Regions from separate parts of the Homo sapiens genome. Here region 2 is linked to region 1. A link means that fine-mapping ties the variant in region 1 to the expression of a gene that starts in the linked region. Tissue or cell type: whole blood. Region 1 holds a variant in brackets; the other region holds the start of a gene. All regions are shown on one strand. Distances are between the middles of the regions. Region 1 overlaps LOC107984527 (a long non-coding RNA gene). Region 2 holds the start of PLEKHA5 (pleckstrin homology domain containing A5).

Region 1 (11,937 bases):
ATTTTTCTTAATGGGCAAAAGATTTGAACAGCATTTCACCAAAGATGTATGATGACAAATAAGCACGTGGAATAACACTCCACATCGTTAGTCATTAGAGAAATGAAAATTAAAGCCACAATGAGATACCACTACATACCTATTAGAACTGACAAAATAAAATAGACTGTAAGAAGTGATAGTAAGGATGTGGCGCTGCTAGAACTCTCACACACTGTTAGTGAGAATATAAACTGGATCAATCACTTTGGAAACCATTTGGCAATTTCTTAAAATCTTAAATATACACTTATCATGTGATCCAGCCATTCTACTCCAGAGTGTTTACCCAAGAGAAGCATAAGCCTAAGTTCTTACAAAGACTTGTCTATAAATGTTCACAGTAATTTCATTTGTAACAGCCAACCACTTTCCACTACCTCAACTGATGTGACATCTAGTTCAAGTCACATCATCTCTAGCTTTAAGTATTATACTATCTTCCTACTTCTGTACTGTCCCCAGCCCCAACAGTGTAATCTCAAAATAGCAGCCAGAAGATTTATTTTCTTTTTTTTCTTTTTTTTTATTATTATACTTTAAGTTCTGAGGTACATGTGCAGAACGTGCAGGTTTGTTACATAGGTATACACGTGCCATGGTGGTTTGCTGCACCCATCAGCCTATCATCTACATTAGATATTTCTTCTAATGCTATCCCTCCCCTAGCCCCCCACCCCCCAACAGGCCCCCACGTGTGATGTTCCCCTCCCTGTGTCCATGTGATCTCATTGTTCAACTCCCACTTATGAGTGAGAACATGCGCTGTTTGTTTTTCTGTTCTTGTGTTAGTTTGCTGAGAATGATGGTTTCCAGCTTCATCCATGTCCCTGGAAAGCACATGAACTCATCGTTCTTATAGCTGCATAGTATTCCATGGTGTATATGTGCCAGAAGATTTTCTAAAGCATCAAGTTCTACATGAGTACTTACATGATCTGATCTGCCTTGCTTCGCCCACCCACCTATCTACCGACATCATCCCCTATCACTCTCCTTTACATTCCTCATGCTCAGCCACAGCATCTCACTGCTTTTCCTCAAATACACCAAACACAATCTTTCCCTACGGATTTTGCACTTGCTCTTTCCTCTGCCTGCACTCTCTTTGCCCACATATCCACATAGATGGCTCTGTCACTTCCTTCAGATCTCTGCTCAGATGCCATCTTCTCATTAGGGGTTCTTTTGAAGAATTCTATGTAAAATAGCTAACTTTTCACCACTACCATTGCTCCTTTTGCCCCTTCTTGATTTATTTCTCTGTAGTATTCCGCACCAACTAACATGCTATCTATTTACTTGTTTCTTTTTTTTTTTTTTTTTGAGACAGGGTTTCACTCTCGTTGCCCAGGCTGGAGTGCAATGGCACAATCTCAGCTCACTGCAACCTCCGCCTCCCGCCTCCCAGGTTCAAGCAATTCTCCTGCCTCAGCCTCCCAAGTAGCTGGGATTACAGGCATGCAGCACCACTCCCGGCTAATTTTGTATTTTTAGTAGAGACAGGGTTTCTCCATGTTGGTCAGGCTGGTCTTGAACTCCCAACCTTAGGTGATCCGCCCACCTGTGCTTCCCAAAGTGCTGGGATTACAGGCATGAGCCACCGCGTCCGGCTCTTACTTGTTTCTTTATTGTTTTCTCTTACTATTACTGCAATATAGGCACCATAAGAGTAAAAACTTTGCTTTGTCCACTGCTGTATCTCCCAGCAACTAAAGCAGTACCTGGCATATGAACATTTGATAAATTCTTTTTGATTAAATGCATTAATAAGTGCATTACCTTTAATCTTTTGTTTGACAAATTGATAAATGTTTTCTGACATATTACAAGTAATTTTAAGCGAAAACCCTTTACATTTATTTTGTCTCATATTTGTATGTGCTGTGTTTTAACATGAGTGGTCATTGTCCATTACTTACTTCCCTCCCTCATCCCTCCTCCTATCAGTCCATTCATTTCTAAATGCGACGATGCTCCCTGATCCATATCCTTGTGCTATTCCAAAGTGTTATGCCATTTTCTCTACTTCATTTCTCAAGATTCGTGCTACCTGGGGAGGGAAAGAAGTGTCAGACGCACAGTGCTCAGAATGTACAGTAGGCATTTTTCTAGTAGTTTGGGAAGGAACCAACACTTAAAACATAGAAGAAAGGAGGAAAGAAAAGAACAATGGCTCTTCCTGGCAGCACTATTTTCTTAACCCTGATTCTCTGGTTACTCAGATAGCACATGGCATTTTATACCCGCTGCTTTTATAATGTCTTAGATTATCATGATGATTGAGAGGCATAATTTGATCACCTGCTGTCAATGGTCATGGATGCATATTAGTTATCACAATGTATAACTGAATTAATAGAGCAGAAATTTGTCCCAAATAGCTGCACTGTTGTTTCATCCCCAGTCTCTGATTGCATGCTACTGGTCATTGCTGGTACTTAACTAGCACAATATAAGCTTCTTGCTGTGATGCCATTTTCTCACCCAGTCTGGCTGAGGTAACCTAGTTGCTTACAGAAAGAAAACTGACTCAGGAGTTGCTAACATGCTTTGCTTCTTAAAGAATCGTTATAATATGATCTATGTGAGGGATGTGAGTTGAGTTGAAAACAACCAAAGAACCAAAAATAGGAATAAATCCTGAGAAGGGGGATTTGAAAGCTTTTAGGGACATAAAAGAAGCAAATGTAAGAAATGACAGAGGGAAGATTTTGCTGCGCTTCCAACTGACAGTAGAGATAGAGGAAAGGAAAAGAGGAATACTAAATGGCAAAAGAGCTCACCGTCAGATAGTTATCTCCTCTGCATGGAATGAACAAGGTTGAAATTAAACAGATAGTATTTACAGAAATGACTTAACTGGTAGATATCTTTTAGATCAAACCTCACTACTGGTGAAGATGTAACACCAACTCATTTTCAGGTTTCCCCAACCTTGAGTAACCTCACCATATACCCCTCTGCTATGCTTCCTGACCTAAATACTGCAATTGTCACTGCTTCCTGAAGTGGGTCATAACACTGCATATTCCAAGACTACAAAATGAGGTGTTAGGACCCAATAGATGATTGCCACAGGTCTTTTTAATCCTAAAAAAATATTTTACACAAAACACTTTACACTACCCTTGTACTCACAGATCACCCTGCAAGATATCAGACCCCTATCCAGAGTACCAGAAGGAAAGCTCACTACTTCTTCCCTTTGATTCTCTTCCCTCTTCCTACACAGACTTAATGAAGACATCTGCCTGACAATATTCAGCTTGTCAAATTAGACAAGAAACAGCCAAATCTGCCTTGTCATCTGTGTCCAAAAAAAAAAGAATCTAAAGATGTCAGAAATATATATGCTTTATCTTGCCCTCAGCCCATTCTTGCTAATTATAAAAAAGAACAATGGATGCTAAATGGTTTTACACTTCTCTTAATTTTGATGTTCCCTTATGAAAAATGAATCTTTCTTACCACTGGAGCCCATGAACAGCGTGCACAAACTGGCTCTGATGGAGAGAAAAATTGCCTAAGAGTGGAGAGTAAAAATATGTGGCTTTTTCACTAGCTTGAATGCTTGAACCAATATGCAGAAAACCCTAGCTGCCAGAGAGAAAGATGGAAGTTGGACAGAGAAAAGGTAAAGCAGATGCTCTCAAAGGTTTGAAAAGCAATTCTAAGTTTCCACAAAACTAGAATTAGACCTGCAGATGACACATGTAAAATGCTGACACACCCATATCTGTTCCCCATGTTGCCTCTCTTGTCTTTTTCTCCCATTCAAATTTATTTCCTCTCCTCTCTCCTCCTTTTCTACATCTCAGCACCACCCTATATGTAAAATAAATGACAATGAAAAAAACAAAGAGACTATCTCTTATGCTCACTTCGGAATTCCTTGTTTGTGTATACTATTGTAAATTCTTGTTGGGCAGACATACTGTTATTTAAAATTATTTCCTTGATTATTTCCTCAAAGCCGGAGGCAGTGGCTGACACCTGTAATCCCAGGATCTGAGGAATTGCTTGAGGCCAGGAGTTTAAACCCAGCCGGGGCAACATAGCAAAACCATCTGTACAAAAATCTTAAAGAAAAGAAAAATTAGCTGGGCTTGGTTGGTAGGCTGAAGGGGGAGGATGGTTTGAGCCCAGGAGTTTGAGGCCGCAGCAAGCCATGAAGGCACTACTGAACTCTAGCCTAAACAACAAACCAAGACATTGTCTCAAAAAAAAAAAAAAAAAAAAACCAAATTATTCTTTCCTGTGATTTATAAAGTTCTCTTTAGACTCTCCTTCCCTACAATATTTCAACTGGTGAAAAAGTCAACCAAAAAATATTAGTTCCTTCATGGACGTTGGTCTTTACTGGTTGCCCAATCCATTCACCTTCCGCCAATTTCGTTCTGGGAAAATGCCCCTTCCCCATTGCATGTGGTCGTGGCAAGGAAAGCAATTGCCCGTCTTTGGAAACCAAGTGTTCCAGATCCTTTTTCTGGTAGTCCCAAGGGTCAGTTGTGTGACTTAACTCCAGCCAATCAGTTCTCTCTTTTCTGGGACTGTGAATATTGAGTGAATAATACAAGAATGAAGAAAACATTGTAGAGATGATTTCATTTCAGTGGCAATAAAAGAGAAGAGGTGCGCTAACCAGACAAGTTTTGCCATGAGATGGTTCTGTTCTTCCTGCTTCCTGGTTTTCTAAATCCCCTTTTGCTCCTCTCTGTTCCCAAGCCTTGCCTTGCTGCCTGCTAGCCTGTTATCCCCACGTAAGCAAGCACCATATCCATCCCTTCCCCTACCACCAAGGTCCTAAATAAATGTACTTTGGTTTAAGCTAACGGTAGTCAGTTTCTGTTGATCACAATTAGGGTAACTGATAGAATACTCTAGAGATGAAAGTGAAACTACAAAAGATCATTTGCAAACTATTTTTTATTGCAACAAAAATGCTTGTGAAGGGAAAATTGGTAAGATTTTTGCTATGTGGAGAAATAGACTACACAATTTGTAATGAAACATATTTTAAACAATTTTCCCTTTTAAATAATTTCAGTATGTCCTGGGAAAATGGAAGCCATCAAATTTTAAAAGAAAAATAGGCAGTTAATAATGTAAGGACTGTCCCTCCACTTTAGGACAGAGTTAGGGGGAAGGATATTAATAGAGAATACCAGAGATTTTAAATTTGACAGCGTGAAGCCTGAAAAATTCTAAAATTTATCTAGATTAGGGAGAGTGCTGGATCAAAGATCGAATGACCAGAGTAATGGCAGTGGAGTGAGCAGATGTGACAAGAGGACGTGTCATGAATGGCCCCAATTAATACTCTTGTTGACAGGCAGCTGAGTCATTAAATGACAGTGAACGAAAAACTGTAAATGAGTAGAGAGAACCCATGGGTAGGAGAAGACAACATAAGAAAACCAAATGATACACTTATAGCTTGATAATGGCTCCACTTAGTTAATGCTAGTTATTAATTTTTACTGATAAACTTCAGTATGTAAGTATCACTAACTTTATCAGGAAACTACTTTTCATATATACCTCTGCCATTTTAATTTTTTGATATGATAGGGAGAAAATGCAAAGATGAGGAATTCTGTGTTATAATGTACCATATCATGGGCAACACAGAGCTTGGACTGAATGGGTGACTCGTGTGTGTGTGTGTGTGTGTGTGTGTGTGTGTGTGTGTGTGTGTTGAGCATAAGTATACAGAAAAGCAAGAAGAATGAATGGAAATCTAAGCTTGAATTGCCTGAATCAAGATTCATGCTGGAGAGAAATGAAAACCAACATAAAGATTGTCATTGAGGCTATAAGAAATGATGCATGCTTAAGGAGTACTGGGAATAGAAAAAAA[A/G]TAGCAGAATTCTGACACAAGAGTTCTGAGAGACAAACACATTAAAGAGAAAGAAGAAGCAGCAAAAAGAATATGAGGGAAACTGGCTGAAGAAGTATCAAGGGAACTAAGAAAATACACTATTCAAGAGAGAGAGATTCAAGGGAAATGCTGCACACATCAAAGAAACTGCTGATAAAGAAAGGGCCTCCAGATTGGGTTCTGCATAAATGCATTATTATAGCATTAGCAACATTTTTCTGATTTTTAATTAAAACACATGTATTACTAAATTTAGTAATATACTAAAAAGCATTTGGAATATACCAAAGATCTATTTTGACATTTTACCACAATATAATTATTTCCAGAGAACAGGGATGTCTATTTTTGTGGCATAAATTACAGTCAAGGACCAGGCGCGGTGGCTCACTCCTGTAATCCCAGCACTTTGGAAGGTTGAGGCGGGTGGATCACTTGAGGTCAGGAGTTCGAGACCAGCCTGACCAACATGATGAAACCCCATCTCTACTAAAAATACAAAATTAGCTGAGCGTGGTGGTGCATGCCTGTAATCCCAGCTACCTGGAAGGCTGAGGCAGGAGAATTGCTTGAATCTGGAAGGTGGAGGTTGCAGTGAGCCAAGATCATACCATTGCACTCCAACCTGGCCAAACAAGAGTGAAACTCCGTCCAAAAAAAAAAAAAATTACATTCAGAGACATGGAGACTGCTAGCACCAAAAAAAAAGTGTGCTTGACTAGCATCAAAGGAACAAAAGAAGTTGAGTCCAGAGTTAATCCCAGCCATAGTTCTACATATTTATGATTTGTTTTGTTACTCTACATGGCAAGAAAGCTACTTTGGAATCAAGCAAGCTTGTTTGAGCTCAGATCAGCTGCTTTCTAGGTGTGTGATCTCACAGTTATTTAATTTCTTCAAGCCTCCGTACCCTCATCTATAAAATGGAGCAAATAATATCTACTTCAGTGAGGGTTGCCTTCCTTAGTGTTCTTAATTATGGCTGATTATATATAAAGTGTTTGATATTGGAGTTATTTTTTAATGCCTGTACCTATCTGGTAAGATTTCAGAAGCTCCAACTTACGGTCAGGCACAGTGGCTCACACCTGTAATCCCAGCACTTTGGGAGGCTGAGGTGGGCAGATCATCTGAGAGGTCAGGAGTTCGAGACCAGCCTGGCCAACATGATGAAACCCTGTCTCTACTAAAAATACAAAAATTAGCCGGGTGTGGTGGCACGTGCCTGTAATCCCAGCTACCCAGGAGGCTGAGGCAGGAGAATCACTGGAACCCGGGAGGCGGAGGCTGCAGTGAGCTGAGATGGCACCACTGCACTCCAACCTGTGCAATAGGGCAATAGAGCGAGACTCCGTCTCAAAAAAAAAGAAAGGAAAAAAAAAAGCTCCAACTTACTTGCCTTCTTTCCTTGTCACCATCAGCATCAACGCCTCCATTCCATACTTAGATTGAAATCCAAACTTCCCACTTTAGATTAAATCCTTTGGCTAAAGAATGTCCTGGTTTAAAAGATTAAAAATACTGAAAGATAACACATTAGGCTTGTCAGTCTGCCCCAATGGATAAGTTTATTTAATTTTTGATTGAGAGTGTATTTTAATGGGGGTAAAAAGTCATTGAAAGTCCTGAATCCGTTTGGAATAGTAGTGTAAGTGTATCATCCTGAGAAGGAAAACAGGGCAAAATGGGGAACCTGGAAGCACAGAAACAAACTTTATCTTCTTTATGGATATCTCCCAGGATCTAACTTAGTTTAGAAAGTGTTATTTCAGGCAGGGTGGAGAGAGAAAAAAAAAAGATCTGTTCAATATTCAACAGTTATGACTTTCTAAAGTGCCATGAGGGTAAAATATAAAAGCTTTTATTAAAATTCAAGCATTCATAATACATTTTTATTTATAGATAGCCTTTATTCCCAAAGCTCTTGGGACTTTGCAGACACGTTACAATTCAACCTCAATTTATCTTCACAAGTATGTCACTAAAGTGTGTAAGGAGTAGGTATAACTCTATTATCTTCAGATTACAGATATAGAAATGAAAGCAGAGACAGATAAAGTAATTTATCTATGGCCTCACTACACGTAAGTGGTTGAGCAGGGAACAAAGCCAGTCATGTAATAGATACCTCTCCTGTCAGATAAGGACATCAGCATCCCATCCCAGCTAGGACCTGCCTTTTTCTGAATCCTTAGTACCAACAAATAGAAGGCTGGGAAGATGGAAGGTCCTATTCAGAGAAATAGAAATTAACAGTTCAGTCTCTGACAAATCATTGCTGATATGGTTGCTGTGGATTTGAGGCTGTGAGGTGAGCCAGAAGTTGAGGCTAGTCTAAAGGGCAGAGCAGTTTCTGGCCATTAGATGAACATCTGTGTGCCCTAAAGCCTGCTCTCCTGCACCTCCCACCATTCCTGCCTTTAGCCAGCTTCAAGCCCAGCGTGGCCGAGCAAGTCACACTGCAACTTCGGCTCAGCTGAATGGGTCCTGAACCCTAACCTAGCCCACCCACCAAATCAGCATTGCACTGCAGCCACTGTCTGTCTCTGAGGTAAAACTGGAGCATACATCACTCTGACACTGAGCCAAATTCTGAGGCAAGACTTTCACTTTGTTTTTCCACCAGTTATTTTCTTTCAAAGGTCATTGTTCAGAAGAAAATAAAGGAGAGCTGGCATGAATATTTTCAGGAAAGGATAATAAACGAGCACTCATTCATTATTTTTGTTTATAAAAATCTACTTTCCTTTCTTGAGAAAAATGAAATAAGATGGTAGAATAATTACTAAAATTGGATGTTTAACAATAAATGGTTAAGATCACTTATCTTAGGTAAAGATATGTAAAGATGTATAAAGCCTTAAGCCAAAGTTATTGCTTACGATTGTGACAAACTTGAATTTAGGTGAAAAAAAACTGGATTCAAAAATGTATGGTTGGCTTAGATACAAACTTCTCACTGTGATGCTTGAAGCAAACCAAAATAAAGCCCTCCCTCTATTTTCATAGTCTCCTTTTTTCTATTCCCCAAAGTAGACCTCTCAATATAATTAAATCGTATTATTTCCTCTTCCAAAATATGTTTTACATTTTCTTTTATCTTTGTTAGAATGTTGCTACTGCTTAAAATGTACTTCCCTTCCATCCCAATTAATAATGATAAAAGATTTTATTCATCAGGAAGTTGTAACAACTCTAAATTTATATGTGTCTAATGCTATGACCTCAAAAAGAGTAGTTCATTTCAGGACTATAAAAAGAAATTTGTGAATCCACAATAAAAGAGGCAGATTTTTAACACAACTCTTACTAACCAATAGAATAAAAAGACAAAAAATCAGTAAGGATGTAGAAGATTTGAATAACAGCATAGCAAACTTGTTCTTTTCTGCTACACACAGAATATAGTATTTATTAAAACTGGGTTCTCAAGAAGCTAAAAAAAGAAAAGGAAATTAAACCACAAATGTAAACTAAGGAAATATTAAAGCTAAGAGCAGAAACTGGGTTCTGTCACATATCCTTGTGTTTTGGTTGTTGTTGTTCTGTTTTTAATAACTCTTTCAAAATATAAAAACCGTTCTTAGCTCACTGGCCCAAACAAAAACAGGCCATGGGCCAGGTTGACCTGAGAACTATAGTTTGCCCACTCCTGCTTTAGATCATACAGACATTAAAATGATCATAACAAGATATTACAGGCCGGACACAGTGGCTCATGCCTGTAATCCCAGCACTTTGGGAGGCCAAGGCAGGAGGATTACTTCAACACAAGAGTTCAAGACCAGCCTGGGCAGCATAGTGAGACTCATCTCTACAAAAGAAAAAAGAATATATTATTTTTAAAATTTCATGTCAATAAATTTTAAAATTTAGATGACATGGCTGGGCACAGTGGCTAAAGCCCGAAATCCAGCACTTTGGAAGGCCAAAGCGGGCAGATCACTTGAGGCCAGGAGTTTGAAACCAGCCTGGGCAACCTGGCAAAACCCCGTCTCTACTAAAAATACAAAAATTAGCTGGGCATGGTGGTGCACACCTGTAATCCCAGTTAGTTGGGAGGCTGAGGCACAAGAATCGCTTGAACCCAGGGGACAGAGGTTTCCATGAGCTGAGATCATGCCACTGCACTCCAGCCTGGGCAACAGAGTGAGACTCTGTCTCAAAAATAAATAAATAAAATAAAATTTAGATGACATGGACAAAGCACAAGCTACCAAAACTAAGACAAGAATAAAAAGTCTAAATGGCCTGTTAAAGATACTGGATTCTCAATTTAATTCCTTCCCACAGAGAAAATGACAGGCCCAGATGGTTTGCTGGTAAATGCTACCAAACGTTTAAACAGACTTTTCTAGAGAACAGCAAATGAGGCACTATTTCTCTTTATTTTTGAAGTTATTATGTTAATGTTGATATCAAACCATGACAAAAATGCTTCAAGAAAGAAAAAGTCTGAGTCAGTATCACTCAGAGCACAAATTGAAAAAATCCTAAACAAAATTCTAACATCAAATTTAGCAAAATATAAAAATCTGAGTTCATTCCAAGAGTGCAAGATTGGTCAAAGATTTAAAAATCAGTCAGTTCAATTTATCACATTAGTGGAAAAGAGAAAATTCATATGATCATTTAAATAAATAAAGAAAATACTGTGATAAAATTCAAAATCTATTCATTATAAAAATTCTCATCAAACTAGGAATACAAGGTAATCTTCTTATTTTGTTAAAGAGTACGAAAAGGAAAGATACAGCAAGCATTATTCTTAGCGGTGAAACGGTGTAAGCTTTCTACTGAGATCTGGAAAAAGATGGGTATGTCTGTCGTTACCACTTCCTTTCAACATTGGAAGAAGGTAGCCACCAGTACAGAAAGGGAGCCCAGCTAATACAGAAAAACAAAAGGGAAAGAAAATGAGGAATGGGAAATGGGGGGAAAGACTGGAAAGAAAGAAATAAGAAATAAAACCCAGATGATATGTGCATGTGTTCATAGAAGTGTCAAAAGAATGACAGAAAATTAGCATTAACAAGACAGTTCATCAAAATTGCTACACAAGTAAATAAATGCATTCCTTTTCCTACTTCAGGTCAGGAAGAATATTCTCCTGTTATGTTCTAGAAGCTCCAGAGGCTCCTAAATATATTACTTTATGGCAACAATAAACAGAAAATAAAATTTTTAAATGATACTATTTATTATAAACCAAAAATGTTAAATTATTAAATATTAAATCTAACAAAAGACATATAAGACCTCTATACAGAAAACTATGAAACATTGAAAGACCTTAAAGACTAAAACAAAAGGAGAGACACACCATGTTCATGAGTTTGAAGACTCAATAATGTAATGTCAATTTTCTTCAAACTGCTGTATAGAGTCAGTACAATCCCAGCTAAAATCTTAACCCATTTTTAAATTTGTTTTATATGTGTGTGTTTACATATATTATGTGTGTGTTTATATTTATGTGTTTGTGTATTTGTCTTGTTGTTGTTTTCATGGAATTGGAAAAGCTGGTCCTAAAATGAAAATGCATCAAAATGCAATTGGACCAGTCCGGTACCAAAATGGAAATATATGGAAATGCAATAGACTCAGAATAGTGAGGATACTCTCGAAGAAGAACATGATGCGAGGACTTACTCTACAGGACATTGATACACCCTACATGTAAAAATAATTAACACAATATGGTATTGATTAAAGGACAGACAATAAAACAATGAAATGAAAACAAAATTCCAGAAATAGACCTGTTCATATCTAGATCCTGAATTACAATTAACATGGCACTTCAGAATAGCAGGGAAAGCATAACTTTACAATAAATGTTGCTGACAACATTGGAAATCCCCATAGGTGAAAAAAAAAATGGACTCTAAACTTAATCACATGCCATTCAGAGAAAACAATGCCAGAGAGATTGCAAATTTAAGTGTGAAAAAACAAAATTCTGAAGCTTCTAGAAGATGTTAGTAGAATTTCTTCATGACCTAGATAGAATT
Region 2 (11,937 bases), 74 kb after region 1:
ACAAGGATTTTCCTCCATATATGGAGCGAGTGACGTTTATTTTTAGTGTTCAGTACTTGTTAAACCTCCTCTTTTTTTGGCTGTGCTGTGATAGTCATCGGATAATGCTGCTCCAAAAGGCAGATCATGATATAAGAAATTGAATAGTCTCATAGGATGGAAATATGAAAAAAAAAAACAATAAAAAGCAGAGGTTAGATATGAGTTTATATCTGAATCAGTTATTGAAGAGGTATGGGGTGATAAAAAAGGGGATATGTTATTGGGAAATAACTCTGTTGGGAGGTAGAAGCATTGGGAAGAAAATTAAATTCAGTAACCATTCTAGTGCTGACTCAAGGTTGCAGAGATTCTGTGATGGGAAGGGCATGATTCTTACCTCACTACAGTGAAGGAGACTCACATATACACACAACTACAAGATAAAGCAGAACTAGATAAAGACATAGTTACAGAGAGAGGGCATTCTAGAAAAATACCATTTTATTCATTAAGGATGGAAATTATTCACAGCGCCCATCTTTCTAATATTGAGGCTGCTTTTACTGGCTCTTGGAAGTCCTAAGGGCAATTATTTCCCCAAATCAGAAGCATGCCTCTTTTTGTATATGTGTCACTAAGTTTTTTATTTACTGTTTTTCCTAAATTTGGGTGCACATTATAGAATTGTACTTAAGATTCTAGACTGCCATTTAAGCACTGTGAATGTGATTTCTTAAGATACACGTTTTTATGAAGTGAATTTCTATTGATTTTTGAAATGTGCCTTGCAATAATAAATCTTGTAGTATCAAAAGATTTAGAGCTAAAAGGAATACCAGTACTGCATATGGTCAACTTACAGGCTTCCCAGTAGTACACAGTCAAAAAGTCAAATGCTATAGCTGGACTAACTGGTACTAGAATTGCAAAGTTATAATCATATTAAAAGACTAACTTTAGATTTTTTATTTGCAATGACAACATAATACAAAGTCAGTAGCTCTTGATTTTCTTGCTATATTATATCCAGTGACTACTGACGCTAATGTGGAACATTTCCTGCTAGTTATTCATTGATTAAAAAAAAGGAGTCATTTTTTTTTTTTCCAGAGACTGGGCAGGAGATAAGATGTCAAGAAGTAATAAGTAGTGAAATGAAAGAGGAGAATGCAAAGGAACCAAAAGAGAAAACATTAAAATGATGTTATTTTTTCCCCCTTGTGTATGCAGATGGACAGGAAAATTAGAGCAGTAATTGCAGACTCCTTTTCACTGAAGACAGAATGGCCTTGGGGAATCAGAGTATGGGAGAAAAAGTTCAGTGAAACTACATTCTCATCCAGGCCCCAACTGACTTGCTGGATATGGCTTTGTCCGAGGTCATTTACCCTTTCTGTGCCTTAGTTTCCTTAACTGTTGAAAAACATTATTTACCATTTTAAGTTACTGAGAAGATGAATGAGATCATGCTCCAGAAACACCCAAAACTGGTCACAAAATTAGGTGCTATAAGAATACTAAGTAGTACTATTATTACTGTACTGTGCATCCTGTTGGAATGAGTCATCTTGCTGCAAAGATGCATAAGCGATTCCAAGTGTGGTAAAAGACCAGAGACAATGAGAAGAGGCAGTTTACTCTTAGATGGCATTAAGGGAGAAGATCCCAGTCGCAGTGAAATCTGCCCTTGTTCAACGAACAAAAGCAGGAGGAAGGGAGACAAGACTCTCTTTTCTTTTTTCTTTTTTTTTTTTTTTGAGACGGAGTCTAGCTCTGTCGCCCAGGCTGGAGTGCAGTGGTGCGATCTCCTCTCACTGCAAGCTCCGCCTCCCGGGTTCATGCCATTCTCCTGCTTCAGCTTCCGGAGTAGCTGGGGCTACAGGCGCCCGCCACCATGCCCGGAGAATTTTTTGTATTTTTAGTGGAGACGGGGTTTCACCATGTTAGCCAGTATGGTCTCAATCTCCTGACCTCGTGATCCGCCCGCCTCGGCCTCCCAAAGTGCTGGGATTACAGGCGTGAGCCACCGCGCCCAGCCAACAAGACTTATTTTTTAACTACAGGCATACCTAGGAGACACTGCTGGTTCATTTCTAGACCAGCACAATAAAGTGAACATAGCAATAAAGTGAGTCACACCATTTTTTTGGTTCCTAGTGCATATATTAGTTATATTTATTATACTGTAATCCATTAAGTGTGCAATAGCATTATGGCTAAAAAACGTACATGCCTTAATTTAAAAAATACTTTAGCCAGGCGCGGTGGCTCACGCCTGTAATCCTAGCACTTTGAGAGGCCAAGGCAGGTGGATCACCTGAGGTCAGGAGTTCCAGATCAGTCTGGCCAACATGGTGAAACCCTGTCTCTAATAAAAATACAAAAATTAGCTGGGCATGGTGATGCGCACCTGTAGTCCCAGCTACTAGGCAGGCTGAGACAGGAAAATTGCTTGAGCCTGGGAGATGGAGGTTGCAGTGAGCTGAAATTGTGCCACTGCACTCCAGCCTGGGCAACCAAGTGAGACTCCATCTCAAAAACAACAACAACAACAAAAAAAAAACTTTAATGGTTAAAAAATGCTAATGGATCATCTGAGTCTCCAGCAAGTCTTAATCTTTTCGCTGGTGGATCTTGCCTCAATGTTGTTGAAGGCTGCTGACCAGTCAGGCTAGTGTTGATGCAGGTAAGAGCAGTTGTTGCAGTTTCTTAAAGACAATAGAGAAGTTTGCTGCATCGATTGACCCTTCCTTCCATGAAGGATTTCTCTGTAGCATGTGATACTGTTTGACAGCATTTTACACACAGTATAATTTCTTTCAAAATTGGAATCTATCCTTTCAAACCCTGCCACTACTTTATCAACTAAGTTTATATTATATTCTAAACTATTTGTTGTCATTTCAACAATATTTACAGTATCTTCACCAGGAATAGATTCCCTCTCAAGAAATCACTTTCTTTGCTCATCCATAAGAAGCAACTCCTCATCCCTTCAAATTTTACCATGAGATTGTGGCATTTCAGCCCCATCTTCAGGCTCTATCTCTAATTCTAGTTCTCTTGCTATTTCCATATTTCTAGTTACTGCCTCCACTGAAGTCTTGAACCCCTCAAACTCATCCATGAGGGTTGGAATCAACTTCTTCCAAACTCTTGATAATGTTGATCTTTTGGCTTCCTTCCTTAAGTCACAAATGTCCTTGATGGCATCTAGAATTATGAATTTTTTCAATTTACTTTTTCCAGATCCATCCAAGGACCCCCTATCTCTGGCAGCTATAGCCTTATGAAATGTACTTTCTACATAATAAGACTTGAAAGTCACAATGACTCCTTGATCCATGAACTGTGGAATGCATGTTGGGTTAGCCAACATGAAAACAACACTAATCTCTTGTATGTCTCCAGGAGAACTCTTGGGTAAACAGGTACACTGTCAATGAACAGAAATATTTTGAAAGGAATCACTTTTTCTTTTCTTTTTTTTTTTTTTTTTTTGAGCAGTAGGTCTCAACAGCAGACTTAAAATGTTCAGTCAGCCATGACAGATGTGCTGTCATCTAGGCTTTGTTGTTCCATTTATAGAGCACAGGAAGAGTATATTTAGCATAATTTTTAAGGGTCTTAGAATTTTTGGAATGGTCAATGAGAATTGGCTTCAACCTAAAATCACCAGCTGCATTATCTCCTAACAAAAAAGTCAGCCTGCCCTTTGAAGCTTTGAAGCCAGGCATTGACTTTTCCTCTCTAGCAGTGAAAGTCCTAGATGGCATCTTCTTTCAATAGTAGGCTGTTTTGTCTACATTGAAAATATGTTTAGTGTATCCACCTTCAATGATCTTGACTAGATTTTCTGGATAACTTGCTGCAGCTTCTACATCATTTGCTGCTTCATCTTGCACTATTATGTTACGGAGATGGTGTTTTTCCTTAAATCCCTGATAGCTTCAACCTTTTCTTCTGCAGCTTCCTCAGCTCTCTCAACCTTCATAAGATTGAAGAGAGTTAGAGCCTTGCTCTGGATTAGGCTTTGGCTAAAGGGAATGTTGTAGCTAGGTTGATCTTCTCCCCAGACCACTAAAATTTTCTCCCTATCTGCAATGAGGCTGTTTTGTTTTCTTATAATTCATGTTTTCACCAGAGTAGCATTTTCAATTTCCTTCAAGAACATTTCCTTTGCATTCCCAACTTGTCTAATTATTTGACACAAGGCCGAGCTTTTGGCCTCTCTTGGCTGTTGATACATCTGAGCTTAATCGTTTCTAGCTTTTCATTTAAAGTAAGGGACATGCAACTCTTCCTTTCACTTGGTCACTTAAAGGGCATTGTAGGGTTACTGGTTGGCCTAATTTCAATATTAGGCCATTATTATTAGACAATTATTAGTGTTTCATTTCAGGGAATATGGAGGCCCAAGATGAAGCAGAGAGACAGAGGAACAGCTGGTTGGTGGAGCAGTCAGAACACACACATTTATTAAGTCCCTGTCTTACATGGGCTCAGTTCATGGTGCCCTCAAAACAATTTCAACAGTAACATCAAAGATCACTGATTACAGATCACTATAACAGGTACAATAATGAAAAAGTTTGAAAGATTGCAAGAATTACCAAAATGTGCCACAGAGACATGTAGTGAGCAAATGCTGTTGAAAAACGGTGCTAGGACTTGCTTAATGCAGAGTTGCCACAAACCTTCAATTTGTAAGATGTGAAAGATCTGCAAACAGCAATAAAGTGAATCGCAGTAAAACAAAGTGGGCTTGTACAGCAAGGAGGTTATACAAATATACTTTTGAAATCCTACAGCCAGTTTGAATCCAGGCTTTGGCAGTTATTACTATGACTGGGCAAACTACTGTGTTTTTAAACTTCATTTTTCCTATCTGTAAAATGGGGATTTTTTATAGATTGTGTGTGTGTGTGTATATATACACACACACACACACATATATATATATACACACATATATATATAGTTGTTGTGAAGATTTAAAAATGTACACCGTCACAAGGACTCCATAAAATAAGCTATTATTGTAATCTATTGGAGACAGGGCAAGTAAAAATCCACACTGATGTTAAGTGAATCTTTAAAAACAAGTACCAGAAAAAGACGAGTTTTTATTTTATAAGATATGACCTAAGGGGCCTAGGAAGAGAAAAAACTTGTTTTGTCAAGTCTAAATCCACTCATATTTCATGGGGCCACGTATCACGTCCAACCTTTGATATCTGGCACACAACAAACAAACAGGAAAGGCCTTTCGTGTGCTTTAATAAAAACAGCTTTCCATTTTAAAACGATAAATATATTGGAAAAATCTGTTGGCTCTCCAACAGCTCTTATAAAACAAAGCTCAGACGCTGTGTTTTTGTTGTTTGAAAGAGAGAAATCAGGGGCTTGGGCATTATTAGGCTCCCTTTGATCGCGCCCTGGGATGGGAAGCCTTCGGGCAAAGCCCTGGGGGCAGGACGCGTTTTTTTTTTTTTTTTTTTTTTTTTTTAATCGATCCCGGAACCTTCGCGCGGCGGAGGGGGCGGGCGCGCCGCAGGGGCCCGAGGGAGGGGTCTGGGGCGCGGCGCCGCTTGCCCATCCCCCGAGCGCGCGGCGGGGCGGCCGGCCGGCGGCCGCCGGGATGCGGAGGGGCGGCGACGGGGGCCGGACCCTGCCGGGGCGGCGGGGCGGGCACCGCCCGAGGGGGTAGGGCGCGCGCGGGGGCGCGCCGGGCCGGGGAGGCGCGCTCGCTCCGCGCTCCCTTCGCTCGCTCGTTCCCTCCTCCCTCGGCAGCCGCGGCGGCAGCAGGAGAAGGCGGCGGCGGCGGCTAGGGATCAGACATGGCGGCGGATCTGAACCTGGAGTGGATCTCCCTGCCCCGGTCCTGGACTTACGGGATCACCAGGGGCGGCCGAGTCTTCTTCATCAAGTAAAGAGCCGGGGACGGCACGGGGGCCCGCGGGGGCGGGAGGGCAGGAGGCGGGCGGCTGGCGACACGGGGGAGAGCCCGGGTCTGTGCTCCTGCAGCCCCTCGGCTCGCCCCCGCGTCCCCTCTCACGCTCCGTGTCTGCCCCTTCTCTCACCCCTGCAGCGAGGAGGCCAAGAGCACCACCTGGCTGCACCCCGTCACCGGCGAGGCGGTGGTCACCGGACACCGGCGGCAGAGCACAGGTAACGCCGGGCCCAAACGGAGTTGGGCTCCGCCTGGAGGAGGCGGCAGAGCCCGGGCCGCCCGGCTCCCCGCAACCTGCCCCGCGCCGCGGGCCCCGGGAGGCGGCGAGGCGGGGCGGAGGCCGGGCGGGAGCGGCCGCAGGTAGAGGGGCCACGGGGACTCCGCCGCCGGGAGTTCTCTCCAGTCTCGGGGCGCCTCTTTCTCCTCAGCCTTTCATCAGCACTTGGAGACGGCGCCCTCTTCCTGCGCCTTCTCCCCCCATCCCAGCCTAGACGACCCTCGCGACCCTAGAGTGGCGACGCTCCCCTCCCTGAAACCTGGAGTCCTGAGTTTTTCCTCCGCGGCCGCTACTCACTCCCCGGTGACCCCCAGCTGCCGTCTTGCCCCCCAGCAATCTTCAGGCAGTCCTTACCCACTCCCCTCCCTGCAGCCCCGGACCCCGATCGCCCGCCGGGATAACGTAACCACATCCTCCCCCTCCTCCCAGGAGCGCTGCCTCCTGCCGTGCAGCTTCCTCCTCCTAGGTGGGACTTGTGGGTAGGTGGCTGATGAAGGAGGAGGAGGAGGAGGAGAGGAGTTCGGGGGTGCTGCGATCCTCTCTGTGACAGGGAACGGCTCGGGAAACGCTTGGCGCGTTCCCTCCTGCCACGGGAGGAGCAGCCGGAGCCGGAGGAGGCGTTCGCAGCCTCAGTTGCTGGCGATCCGGATCTAAAGTCCCCGCCAGCCGCACGGAGGTTGCACAGACTGCCAGGAGGCGGTGGGCGTGCGAGGGGGTGTCCCGTATGGGGGCACCCGGGCCCTGTTTGGAGGGAGTCCGTGGGGAAGCGGCTCTCTCGGGTGGCTTTGGGAGCTTGTTTGAATGCTAAGTGTGAGTGGAGCTGGAAAAGGCTCCTCGTAGTTTCTGTACTGGTCTGGGTTTCTTTTATCATTCTTTGTTTACATTCGTGACTTGTTTGTCTTTGAAATGTAACATGTGTTCTCTTACTGGCCTGCCTCTAGTCCTGGTGATTGGAAAGGCTTGAGAGCAGTTTGGGTCGAAGGCGAGGCCAGTTTCAGCAGTCCTCAGAGCTGGCCTCTGGGGTACATTCTCTCGGACTCTGACATTCCGTGAATCTGTTAAAGTTGCCAGGATATTGAACAAACCTGCCTCTCTGTGAAATGCTGGAGTTCACTGAAGTGACTAATGTCTCCAAATTTGCAAAAAGGTGGAGGAAGAAAGGAAAGGCTGGTGTAGCAAGCATGATGAGCTTACATTTTTAAGGCATTTCTGACTAATACACTATCATGTTTCTCAATTCCCCGGTGCAGGCTTTTGCTTCAATATACCTTTCTGGTGTTTTACACGCATATTCCAACTTTGATGGCCTCTTTGCTTTTATGGATAATGATAGATTTATTTCATGAAAGACGATATGACATTTAAATTATTTAGACTAATTATCCTATGGAATTATGAGTGATATAAATAAGTGTCCTAGTTAACCCCACAGATTTGGTAACATTCACGCCACAGAAAAATTTTATTCTTTTATGTGATTTCACTTTTTTTTTTTTCTGGTTTGGTTTTACTTTGCTTGGACTCTGGTTTTGTACACACATCGGTTGTTTTTACTTCCAAGAGGCATTTTGATGAAATCCAAACAACTTGTCATTAATAATAATATGTAGCACATAATGACCATTGTTCACCTGAATCATCCCCAACTTTACTACTTGAAACTTCACGTCTCTTAGTCAAATTTTTAGAAACACACACGGAAGTATTCGGTGTCATTTCTTTTCCATTAATTAAGTAGTTAGGAAGTTCTGCCTTCTTTTTGGTGACACTTCCTAGATGGATTCATTTGTGTAGCTGAAAAATACGGTCTTAAATAGACACAATATACCCAAGAAGAGGCAGGCGTTGCCTGTTATACCCAGCTTTTTTTTTTGCTAGTCATTCATGAGTGTTCCACCTGGGATGAGAAGGCTTCCCTTTGCTTTCTTGGGTGCCAGAACATAGTTCCTCTCCACCCTAATATATTACAGTGTGTGCTCAGGTCAGATAATCTCTAATATTATGGTTACTTTTCTGGTGGCTCTAAATTTGAATTGCTGTTTTTCAAAAAATGATATCTGTTGTATTGCCAGCTCAACACTTTTTTTGTTAGTAATCTACTTAATTAAAACAGCTAATAAATGAAAATGGATAATTAAAATGGATTGAGACTTATTTTGCTATCATTGAAGTAATACTAATTGTAATATATGTATTGTTTTAGATTTGCCTACTGGCTGGGAAGAAGCATATACTTTTGAAGGTGCAAGATACTATATAAAGTGAGTTTTTTGACTTTCATTTTTTTCCTTCGTAATTAGAATGCTGTGATTACTCCTCAGCTGAATAGTTGTATGTCCAGTCTTGATCATGATTTTCTGAAGTTTATCATATAATGGTGACTGTATTCTTTATTTTGTATAGTGTCAGAATTTTGAGAGAAGAAAATGGCACTCTTACTTTTCTAATGTTATTTGCCTGGAATATTCATCGATTCATTGATTTGGAAATTAGATCATTTATGGCCACTTTTAAAAATAATTTTGTATCTTCGTTTTTTTCTTTTGGAATCGTCCAGCTTCATCAGAATATGACCACAATTACCTTTTTTTTTTTTTTTTTTTGGTGCTTCTGTGTATATTCCTGGGTAATAGAGGATTATTGGTCATTAGCTATGTGGTACTTAAAGTTTTGATCTTTGATTATCTGTGCTGAGAGATAACAAACAAAAAAAAATCTGAGTTACGTGAACATCTTTTTTTTTTTTTTTTTTTTAGTGAACCTTGTTCATGTATATTTTGACCAGGGCTGTTTATAGGTAGCAAAAGTGATGTAAAGCTAGGCACAATTTGATAAACAATGACGGTCAGGGAGTAAAAATAGAAATAGTTACTGAATATTTCATGAGCATATATTGGAGCATTGTTTGTATTTTTGCCTCAGTTTATTTAAATATGTCTAAGTCAAGATGTTTTATTGATATGTTTGTTTAAAAAAGGCTTTTAGTAGAGCTTGAGAGAAAAGATGACCAGTCAGTCCCAATCTTAAAACCAGTTCTTTAGAATATTAAACTAATTTATGTTCAAACTTAATAACTTAGTACTACTTGGAGACAAATACAAAGCTGGAGGTCAACATCATGTAGGAAAAATTTTAATCCCCCAACGAAAAATATGGGTGGTTTTGTCTTTTTATTTTTATATTAGAAACTATTTACCTAAGAGTTTGTTTTTATTGTTTAACCTTATTTGTTCTTTAATTTTAATAAACTGAGACATGAAAGAGAATGCTGAAATGCCAAACTGGGTTAAGACTTCAGTAGTTTATAAACAATAACAGATACCTAGCTAAAGTTACCTTTATTTCATTGAGCCTAGAAAGTTATTTTTACTGTGACATTTTTAAGATCATGTTATACTTCCAGTAAATTATAATTACCTGTATGGTTCTTTAATCTTTTAGAAAGATACTTAGATAAAACGTCAAGGGCTTTTTTATAAGTATTAGGAATGCTTGCTTTTGGATGTAGAAATAGAGAAAGCAGAAGATACAGGAATGGAATAGTTTCATGGTATGGTCTTTCTGTGAATATTTTTGGGTGAAATCTTTTCTTTGGAGATTATACTATACATTATTAGATGGCCTAAAAAAATACTTGAGTGAAATGCAGTCATCAAATGTTTTTCTATTGGTTATTTCCATCCTAAATTAAAGTGAGTTGATATTGCCACGAAAAGGGATACTTCTTTTCTTGTCAAGCTAGTAGTATGGTATATGTGAAGAAAAACAGTTTTTTCATTTCAGGTCATTTATTCAATGTAATTTTGACTACTGTACATTAAGCCTAGCTCATCTTATAAAAACAGAGGTAACATTTCAATTTTCAATAACATTTTAATTTCTTTGCGTGCATTCTTGGATGAATGTTTATTTGATAGTACAAAATCTTATTCTGTGTGGGCTGAGTATGTATGTTTTAATTTAGAACTAAGCTGTTAGGAAGACATTGAGTGAGTTTCTTTTGTTTTACGAGCCATTTTGATTAGGTTTTCTTTTATGTTTACTTAAACAAATTAGAATTTTATTTGAGTGCCATGTCTAATGCCTAAGTAGGTTTCTCTGGAAAATTAAGACAATATTAAGAAAGCTATAATAATTTTACTTTAAAGACATTTTTAAACTTGTAGGTTTTAATCATTTTGGTATTCATAGCCAGTAATTGTGTCCAAAAGTAGCAATAAATAACTTATAATATTATGGAAGTAATTTCTCCTAAAATTGAGCATAGTGTTGCATATCACTCATTAAACTTTTAAAAAAACTAACCATTGATAAATATATGATGTACTGAATGTTAGGTGCTACTGCTTTATCTTCTGGGTAATGTCAGAAGACTAATTTCTTTTAAGGTTAGTTAAATCCCTAATGTGCACTGTAATTTCCTAGAAACTTTTTACTTGTTTGTATTGTTATTTATCATTCTAATAGGATAGGGGCACTACTTTTATCTTAAACTTTACAATTTAGAGTACCTTCACATACATTATTCATTCATGAAGTAGTCAGAGTTACTACTCCCATTGTCACACACATAATAAAACAGCAGAAACATGCCTTTGGAACTTACAGTTTGCAAAGACAGCAGGATGAGAAACCCCAGGAACATAAACTATATTTAGAATATTCAGAGTGGAGGAAAAGATAGGAGTCTGAAGTAGGAAAGTGATTCGTGTTGGTGGCTATAGTTTTTCATTGTCATTTCTTTCTCAGATGAAGAAAGGTGGTTATTGATCAAATTGTATGTAAAGGAGGTTACAGGGTTATCGGGGTGGATTTTGTTCACATGGGAAGTGGAAAGATAGGAATGCCAATAAAAGACATGTCAGCCCTTTGACTATTCCTAATCCTGTGTTCTGGAAAGTTCTCACTGCAAGAAGGGAGACCTAAAGAATTTCAGTTGTTTCTGCTTCCATTGTGAAGTGAAATATATATAACTCTTAAATTATTCCTCTCCTGGACAAATGTTGGTTGGTGTTAAAAATGGCAGGTTACCAGAAAGAATTTATCTCTTAATTATATTTTGGTATTGACACTTGCATCTCTGTAGGTGGTAAGAGGAGAGGATTGTAGTGGGGAAGTCATAGGAACTGAAATGTGGTCTTGACCTTAATGACTTTGGAGCTCAGTCTTCACGTCTTTAAATTAGGTTACCTGGAAAAGGCAACCTCTAAATTCCATTTCTAAATTTCTTTGAATTTTGTACTGTTCTGGGATTTATAATATTCTGGAAAACAAGGAACTCACAATGCCAAGCAGAGATGATGCGGGAAATATGGAAAGCTAGCTTTTCTATCCTTCTTAACTATTTTATCCTCCCTCTTTAAGCTTTGGATAGACAATCACAGATAAGTATGATGTATGTAGTGCCAGGGTTGTGTGTACTTTCTTTTGCTGCTTTTTGTGCTTACGTTTCCTTGTAAAATGTTTGTATACATATCTTCATGTAAACAGATAGTACTGCTAATGTAAACAAAGGACCTGATCAGCGTAAGAGTTGTATAGGTTTGAGTTAATCAGTTTATTTTATACACTTTGAAATTGGTTCTTTAATACAAGTTTGCAGCTAGATTAAAAAAATATGTAATATAGAGAATGTATTTTCCTTCACATCCATTTGGCCAAAAAACAGTAAAATATGAAAAATCTTACTTTGTTTTTTTTTTTTTTTTTGAGGGGGGTTTCACTG

Evidence for each region. PIP is the estimated chance that this variant, and not a neighbour inherited with it, causes the effect.
Region 2: PLEKHA5 starts here. The variant in region 1 is fine-mapped to the expression of PLEKHA5 in whole blood (TOPMed, PIP above 0.99). The same link has a PIP of 0.9 or more in blood mononuclear cells.

What each region holds. Positions count from the first base shown.
Region 1 is chr12:19,050,431-19,062,367 of GRCh38, forward strand. All of the region lies in intron 1 of LOC107984527 (a long non-coding RNA gene), which reads left to right. Among named protein-coding and RNA genes, the nearest start is that of PLEKHA5, 73 kb to the right of the region's middle. The variant A/G (reference allele first, on the strand shown) is at 5,903.
Region 2 is chr12:19,123,978-19,135,914 of GRCh38, forward strand. It overlaps PLEKHA5 (pleckstrin homology domain containing A5), which reads left to right and starts at 5,756. Exons shown (of 32, transcript NM_001256470.2): 1 at 5,756-5,911; 2 at 6,074-6,153; 3 at 8,416-8,473. The coding sequence starts at 5,823.